2 separate regions of the Homo sapiens genome follow, and region 2 is linked to region 1. The links come from fine-mapping of genetic effects on gene expression. A gene starts in region 1. The other region holds a variant in brackets. All regions are shown on one strand. Distances are from middle to middle.

Region 1 (4,402 bases):
TTCCCTAAACTAATATTACAGTGGTGTGATGTACCATTAACTACATGGCCATGGAGATTCAGAGGTGAAAGCAGGGATTGCCTGCATCTTTTAAGTCCCAGTTTGATTTTGATTTCATTTCATAATAGATCTTATTAATGATAAAAGTTGGCGGCCGGGCGCGGTGGCTCACACCTGTAATCCCAGCACTTTGGGAGGCCGAGGCGGGCGGATCACGAGGTTAGGAGATTGAGACCATCCTGGCTAAACCAGGAACCCCAGCAAAACCCTATCTCTACTAAAAATACAAAAAAATTAGCCAGGCGTGGTGGCGGGCGCCTTTGGCACAGCACACAAATCCCCTGATCATATAATCATAGGGCCCTGTCTAGCTTTATAGCCTTTGGACATTACTGACCACATCAACTTTAACCTCCTGCCACACATGCACACTCAGGGGAGAGGGCAAGGTACATTTGGGGAACTCCCCCTCCTCTTCCCCATCTCTTCCTTGACTTCCTTCTTCTCTAGTCAGAGTCATCCATAGTGAGCCTTCTGCTGCCCACTGGAAACTGGGTTGAAAGTCCCAGCTACTCGGGAGGCTGAGGCAGGAGAATGGCGTGAACCTGGGAGACAGAGCTTGCAGTTAGCCGAGATCGTGCCACTGCACTCCAGCCTGGGCGACAGAAAGAGACTCTGTCTCAAAAAAAAAAAAAAAAAAAAAAACGAAAAACAAAAACAAACAAAAAAGAAAACGTTGGCGTGGGTGACTTTGGGGATTCTAGGAAGAGCCCTGGCGCTTTCAACCCAGTTTCCAGTGGGCAGCAGAAGGCTCACTATGGATGACTCTGACTAGAGAAGAAGGAAGTCAAGGAAGAGATGGGGAAGAGGAGGGGGAGTTCCCCAAATGTACTTTGCCCTCTCCCCTGAGTGTGCATGTGTGGCAGGAGGTTAACGTTGATGTGGTGAGTAATGCCGAAAGGCTATAAAGCTAGACAGGGCCCTATGATTATATGATCAGGGGATTTGTGTGCTGTGCCAAGGCTTGGATGGCATCCTTTGTTCCAGACAGAAGGGTCCTGTTTATTGTCCTCCTAAGGTAATTTTTGTTCACTTTGTAACTTTTGCTCCCATGCACTCAGCAAACAGATATTGACCAGCTACTATGTGCTAGTAAGTAAGTGGTAGTTGTTTGGGATACAATAGTGAGTAAAGCATGACTCTTAGCATCTGTTGTATGTGCATGCATGCCATGCATGTGACACTGAGGGAGAGAGAGATTAAATGATATGACAGCATAGAGGCTGGGCACTGCCCAACTTTCCATGTGGAATTCAGAGAGGTCTTTATTTCTCTGAAGTTGAGTTTAAGCTTGGGTGTTCTAGCGACCAGAACTGTAATGGGAATTGTAGGTGCAGATGAACTTTGTGTAGGGTTATGGTTCTTTCTCACAGAACTATTGGCACCCACTGCAACCAGCTACACAATTTTCTTTACAACTCTGCAGCAAGCTAGACAGGTCACAGGCAGTCCAACCTCAGGAGGTTGCCTGTATCATGTTGATGGTGAAGCTGACACCATAGCATGGAAACCAGAGTCCACTGCTCCCACAGCTCAATGCTTAGCTGTTTCAATATGTTGTCTGAAACTGCATCTTCTAATTCCTGGACTTTTCAGATCTGTACTGACTCAGATCTGGGTGGGGCTTAGTTTGAAGGAGGGAGTCCTTGGTGATGATGTGATTTCCTTGGTCTGTCATAGGTAGCAAATCAAACGTACCTTGGACTTTACTCTCTGAGAAACTCATAGCTGAATTCAATGTTTATTCTTATGGACTACTTAGCATTTGACTAGACGGTATGAATTTCTAAGTAAGGTAAGGATTTCTTTCTAAGTTGTTTATACCTAGAACTTAAAAGTGGGCATGAATAAATCAAATATGGGTGGTTTTTAGTTGACACTTTATTTTCCCGTTAGGAAAAAATTAGTGACTGATCTTTTAAATTGATTTAGTGCATATACTATGTATTGTGCATATGCACCAAACAAATACTTAGTAAAAGGTTGTCTTGAAGGAACATGCTGATATATTTCAAATAAAAGAACTTAGCAAAAATGAGGAAAATACCTAACATTCTGGTAAGACAGTGAAAGAGGGATGAGCAATGTTTGTTTTGAAAATTATCTGCGAACTTTAAAAAAATCTCTAAGAGTGTATTCTTACTTGTAATTGTTCATCTAGTTACACTACAGAGTTTTATTAGCTGCTCCAAGATGCACTGCGTTCCATTCTGTGGTGGAAACAAAAGGACCGTAGTAGTGGTTATCTAGCAGAAGAATCGTGATCTTTGAATTCTAATACAAGAAACTTAGAAGTCTCCTAGATATTTCCACTGTCTCAGGGAAGAATCATTAAGTTTATGTCATTTTTTAATAACTAAAACAAGATTCAAAAAGTTAAGATTCAATTCTCATTGGGTTTCTATTGTTTGGGACTTTGGATAATAGAAAAAAATATGAACAGGTAATTTAGGTTTTTTTGTGTTACTGGTACCTGACAAAACAAACTTGAGCTTCCCATTTCCTAGAAACTTGGAGGAAATAATTTCTGTCCAGAATGGCAAATTGGTGTCATATCCCATTATAAGCATATTTTAATCAAAAGATGCAATAAAGTGTAGTGGTCAAGATCATAGTCTCTAGAGTCAAGTAATCCTTGGTGCATTTACCTGCTTCATCATTAACCAGTTGTATATTTTTCTCAGAGCCAGTTTCCTAATCTGTAAAATGGGGGTAGACTAGTATTGCTGTGAAGATTAAATGAAATTTATTAAAGTGCTTAGCAAAGTGCCTGGTATGTAGAAAGTGTTTAATAAATATTATTATTTCAGAATATAGATGTAAAAGACAAATGATTTCCTATATAATCATATTGAGTAGCCTGAAAGTTTGGTGGCTCTTAAATAAATCCATGAATGAAGGCTCTGCCTACTTTTGGCGTGTGGCCCACCAGCATGTTCTATCAGTTGGCCTGAGCTGGGAAAGAAACCAATTCCTGTGTTGAGTTTTCCTCCAGGTGCTTAAAATAGACCATAGCTTAATATTTTGATCATTAACCAGTGATTCTGGGTGGCTTCTCCTTGCTCTGGTCAGTGACCGGTGTAGGTCACGTAGTACAGCATTAAACAAGGTGTTTTTCCTCCTGAGGTTGTCATGTCAACTCTAAATTCCCAGAGACTTGCCTAGGAGTGGAGAGTTTGTTCTGAGTTACATAACCAGCATTCTCTTTGAGGCTTTGAATGTCTGTCTAACTGACTTCTGACTGCAGGCATGCAAACTTTTCCCCTGCCTAGTAGGAATGAATACCCCTTTTCCAAGTATCTGCATAGCAGCGACCCAGGGGCTATCCAAGAGCCAGTTGCTTCCTGACTTAATTTCTGGGAAGACCAATTGCCTATTCAAGAGAAATTCCTTCCTCCTTATTCTTCTGTCAGATGAGACTAGCTATTAGGTATTCCCTATCTAGGACTCTGACCTGACTCTCCTAGAAAAGAAAATGAGGATCCAAGTCCATTCCGTTTAACTGGGGCTATAAACATATGCCACCAGAAAAATCCTGCTATTCTGGCTTATTATAACTTTAGGTTCTCCTTTCTAACACAATACTATCTTTATAACATGTACACACCTTTCCTTGGTATTCAGTTGTAGTGTTTATATGTTCAAAATCCTTCTAATTTAGCCCCAACTAAAGTTTCCAGTATATATTTGCAGGCCCCTTTTACTGCACCATCTTCAGTAAAATGCATATTTCTCTTTCTTCAGCATAGGCTTCACCCTTAGAAGCTTGCTTTTCTCTGGATATTCATTTCCAGCAGGTCTCAGAGATAATGTACTGTATTGCATCTTTTTCTGTTGGAGACTAGAATGCAGTTAGCAGGTGCAGCTTGTTATAATAACTGCAGATTCAGATTTTTTCTCTCTGTAAATACTGTTAAATGTCCCCTCAGAGGCTCATTTTAAAATTGAGTAACGAATGGGGGCTTGTTTTTCCTTAGTCCTCGATCTTGGAATCTTAGAGTCTGTCATTGCACATTGCTGCTTACCATTTAGAGTTCAAACCACTAATTCCCAAGTGATAAGAGATTAAGATACAAACCTGAGATAGGCAAATGTACACTTGCAGCTTCCTTGCTTTAATACTTCTGTTTCAGGTGGGATGTCTTCTCCATGGCTATCCAGGTCTGTCCTAGACACCACCTTCGAGAAATGAGATCCTTTCTATCTAATTTAACCTAGATTAGAGACATCACCAAGAACACCTTCTGAAGGTGAAAACCTTTTACCTTTTCTTTTTGTCCCATACTCTATATTCCTTAACTGCAATCACTACAATATCCTGTCAATTACACAAAATTAATGT
Region 2 (4,402 bases), 190 kb before region 1:
CCATAATCATAAACAACATAGCTCTAGGAAGAAACTTTATAAATAAGGAAATGGAAGCTTGTAGAGACCAGATAATTTGCCTCAGGTCACAGAGAGAGAAGAGAAGGTGAATCTAGCCTGATCCCATTTCTTTTCTCACTGAGGCTACAATTCATTTCCTCTAACCTCTCCCAGTCCTACCGAAGTAAAGCTGTCTCTCAAACAGCATGCCGGTTCACATCTCTGCACCTCAGAGTACTTCTGCTTGCAATCCTCCTCTCTGATATTTAACTGTCAAAGTCCTACCTAGTAATCTGTCAAAATCCTACCCAGTGATCACCACATCTGTGAAGACTCTTCTAAGCCTCCCGACTTGATGCCCAGTACATATTTCCCATCTTGCACGTATCGTGCTGCACTGTAACTGTGTGTTTACAAGTCCCTTTCTCTCTCAAGGCTGTGGGCTCCATCGCTGTGTCTGGTCCAATAAAGACTTTTGAAGTGAACTGGTGTGCATAGTCATTAGCGGGTTCTCTGTAAATTTCATGGATTGTAATAATGCCTGGAAAGTATAAGCCAGTTTCTAAAGAAAGTAGATGTTAGCAATGGACAAAAAAAGTGGCTTGGAAAATGATAATCTTTTAACACATTATTTACATATACAACTTTTTATTAAAAATGGGTTTCACAATGGACTCTCCCTCCTCCCTGTCATCCCTCACCAGTAACATTAGGCTTAATTATTTAAATTAATTGAGTGGGAGTCAGTATTTAATTTAAAGTCTAATTCTTATTAGGATTTTAATAAATAACATTTAATAACTACCAATTACACTTCAGCATATAAGAACGCTTAATTCTTAACATTATTAATTTTTAAATAGAATCTAATGGAAACAATTTCTCCACATGGAAGTCTACACCTTGACCAAGTTTGAATTCTAAGTCTTAGCCTTGGTTCTCTTTGTATTGCTCATGCCTGCTGCTTTCTCTCTCTGTTTTCCTATTCTTGAGTGGGTTTTATGTGAAAGAAGATGGACTTCCTTCAGGCCTACAATAAAGTGACACTGACTTAAGAAAAACAAAATATCATTTATTTTTATACACAAGAAGATATAAAATTTCTACGAATGAGCAGATTTGGGTTTGAACATTAAACTCCATCATTCACATGCTGCATTGTTCAGTAGCATGTGTTTAATTTTATCATAAATTATCAAGTACTTTAAAAAACATGTAAAATCCTGTTTTCTGACTTTTGTAATTCAGATAACATTCTGGAATGGGACACACACACACACAGACACACACTTATATCTCCCTAAAACCACTGCATTAGTTAGGATCTTCAGGGAACAGTCACCCAGATAACCTAAAGTAATATAAGTTTATTGTAAGATCATATGTCTCAAACCGAGGTAGCCATATCTCAAGGGATTACATGGCATTAGCCAAAAATTATGAGAAGTAACTGAAACAAAAAATATGCCATGTCTCTCTAAATTATCCATTTTAAATGAATACAACATTTTTAATAAAAAATAATACCAATCTCTCAAGGAGGAAAATGTAGATGGAATTTTGAAGATGAAAACAACATGAGATGGCAAAGAAATGCTAAGCTCGTGATAAGCCTCTTGGGCTATGCCCCAGACTGCTAGTAGTACTAGCACCTTCTTTTCTTTTCTTTCATTTAGCAGAAAAGTCAGAAAAGTGTTGTATAAGATTCACATAGAAATAAGGACAAGAACAAGAACTGCACAAGAGTTGACACTGGAGACTGGAATGCTACTCAAAGAACAGAATTCCCCCAAACATCCAAGATGACCCCTAGCAACTGAATTATCTTGACATCACCTCAGCAGTAGAGTGCTGTTAGGTAACTCTGGCAA[G/C]GGTATACATATAATCTGCTTCAACAGTCCTTATTCCCACCAACCAACTCAACTATTCCTGCCCTTTATTTATCTTTTCGTTACAGCTTCCTTATACTTTTGCCCACTTCTAATTTCAATATACCCAATGGCTTTTCACAACATCTACAGTTGACTTTCTCTCTGGGTATCTTCTGCTCCTGCTCCATCTTCCAAATGCTCAAACTAATTTGTGCATTAAATGTAAAAAAAAAAAAAATCACCCGAAGAGGGCATATCATTCCTTCAATTAATCACCAGCATCCCTGTTTTGACACAGATTTTGTGCCATGCTGTCCATATCGCACCGGCCAGTCTACATGTTATTTGACTTTGAGTTCACTTCCCACTTTTGGCAAGCCTGGCTGTTGTTCTGTAGCAGGGTAACACAGGCTAAGAATTGAGATATGTCAACTTAAGGATTCACCGTGGTCAAGTTTCCTCTGCAGAAGACCATGGAAGTGTGTCATGGGCATTCTGACTCTTGCCTTCTTCAAAATAGCCCCACTAACAGATGTCAGCAACTGATTCCTTTGGAAGGATAAACAAATGGTATAACCAGATAAGGCTTTGAAGGCTTTGCAATGGACCCCAAATTATAACTAGTTACACAGAAATTTAAAGAATGGAATGAATCTCTGTTTGGATAGATGTCCTATATATTGCAGGTATCCTTTCTTATTTATTTTCCTTTCCTTTTTTTTAAGTTTTGTATTTCAGCTACAATGGTTTCAGTTAAACATACTTCTTAGTTCCTATTCCACCGTTACTACTGGTTCATCACCTCTTTAGTCCTTTAGTGCTACTGTAACAAAATATCAGTGGCTAGGTAATTTATAAAGACAGAATTTTATTTCTCTCAGTTCTGGAGGCTGGGAGTCCAGGATACAGATGCCAGCAGGTTTGGTGTCTGGTAAGAACCTGGACTCTGTTTCCAAGACGGTGCCTGTTGCTTTATCCTCTGGAGGGGGGTAATGCAGTGTCCTCACGTGGTGGAAGGGATGGGAGGGCAAAAGGGTGCTTCCTCCAGCCTTGAGGTCTAAAGGGCCTAATGCTAATACCATTTTTTAGGATGAAGCCCTGGTGACTTAACTACCTCTTAAAGGCTACACCTGTCAATACTGTTGCATTGAGGGGGCGAAAACATTTAAGCCCTAGCACCTCCGTTGATTGGTTGATTGATTGGAATCCTTTTCACAATCTCTGATAGAGATTTTAACATACTTCTGGAACTTACTATCTCATAAGGGCAACAGCCTATTTCATATATTGAACTTGCTAATTCTTAGGTAATTCTTTCATACATTAAACCAAAAATAACTTTCCCTTAACTTTGCCCTAATGTCCTCAGTTCTTTCTTGCAGAACCATATAGAAAATGTCTATTTCTTCCCCCAACACAATAGCCTTTCAACCCTATAAGGTTGGCTATTAAAGAAAGTTTTCACTTTTCTATGTGAAACATAGTCTGTTCTTTCATTAATTCTTCATATGATGTGGGTTTAAGGCACTTTACTACCTAGTCACTTTCCCTTGGACACACTCTAGTTTGATAATGTCTTTTTAAAAAATATGTATATATTTAAATATTTAAAAATAGATATGCTCTGCCATTGCAGAACATGATGGGTACAACCTTGCCCCTCCCTTCTCTAGTTTTGGTTTTTATTAATGCATCCTAAAATTTGTATCAGTCTTTTTTGGAAATAATATCACATTTTTGACTCTCATTGAACTTTAAATCTTTTTCAAGTGAACTGCTGTCAATTCAAAGCTTTCTACCTTGTATTTAAGTAGTTGATTCTTTGAACTTAGATGCAGAATTTAACATTTAACCCTATTAAATTGTATATTGTTAATTTCATTCCATCCTTCTCCTTTTCCAAGGTCTTTTTCAAATTTGATTCTTTAATATTGTCTATCAGCTTTACCTCCAACTTTCAGCGATCTACAAGCTTGATAGGCAAAGTTTTTATTGAAATTCACCCAATTCACTGATTAAAACGTTTACAATTTCAGAATAGAAGACAAAGAATCACTTTTAGTAGTGGTTCTAAAATTTTAGTGTGCAAAATAATAACCCAGGACATTTGCTAAATGTGCAGATCCCCAAGTCCCATTTCCAGAAATTTTGATTTAATAAGTCTGGGATGTGATTCCAGGAATGTGCATTTTTAACTAGCACCACATTTGATTCTGATGCTTTTTGTCCTAGGCCACGCCTTTAGACAGATCTTCGAAATTTTCCTTTTGGTCTAAATTGACATTAACATGTTCATTAATTTTTAATAGGGTGCTTTTTTTTAGTACAGTGTTGGACACATGATTAATACTGAATGAATGACTGAACAAAAGAAAGAATGAAGGGTGGAAGCAGTGCTCAGCTAATAATTCAGCTATATTTCTTCATTTTAGTCACAAAGCCAGTACGATCAGTTTTTTCAAATGCTTTGTTGTAATTGAATTATATTATGTCTTTGATGTTCCACACCGAGGGAAAAAAAAATTTATTTT

What was found. PIP is the estimated chance that this variant, and not a neighbour inherited with it, causes the effect.
Region 2: its variant is the best candidate, but not a certain one, in a credible set for the expression of HHLA2 in whole blood (TOPMed, PIP 0.73).

Annotation. Positions count from the first base shown.
Region 1 is chr3:108,294,745-108,299,146 of GRCh38, forward strand. It overlaps HHLA2 (HHLA2 member of B7 family), which reads left to right and starts at 1,804. Exons shown (of 10, transcript NM_001282556.2): 1 at 1,804-1,855.
Region 2 is chr3:108,108,766-108,113,167 of GRCh38, forward strand. It overlaps LOC105374031 (a long non-coding RNA gene), which reads left to right. Exons shown (of 8, transcript XR_007095997.1): 3 at 1,677-1,858; 4 at 2,170-2,557. Among named protein-coding and RNA genes, the nearest start is that of LINC01215, 14 kb to the right of the region's middle. The variant G/C (reference allele first, on the strand shown) is at 1,872.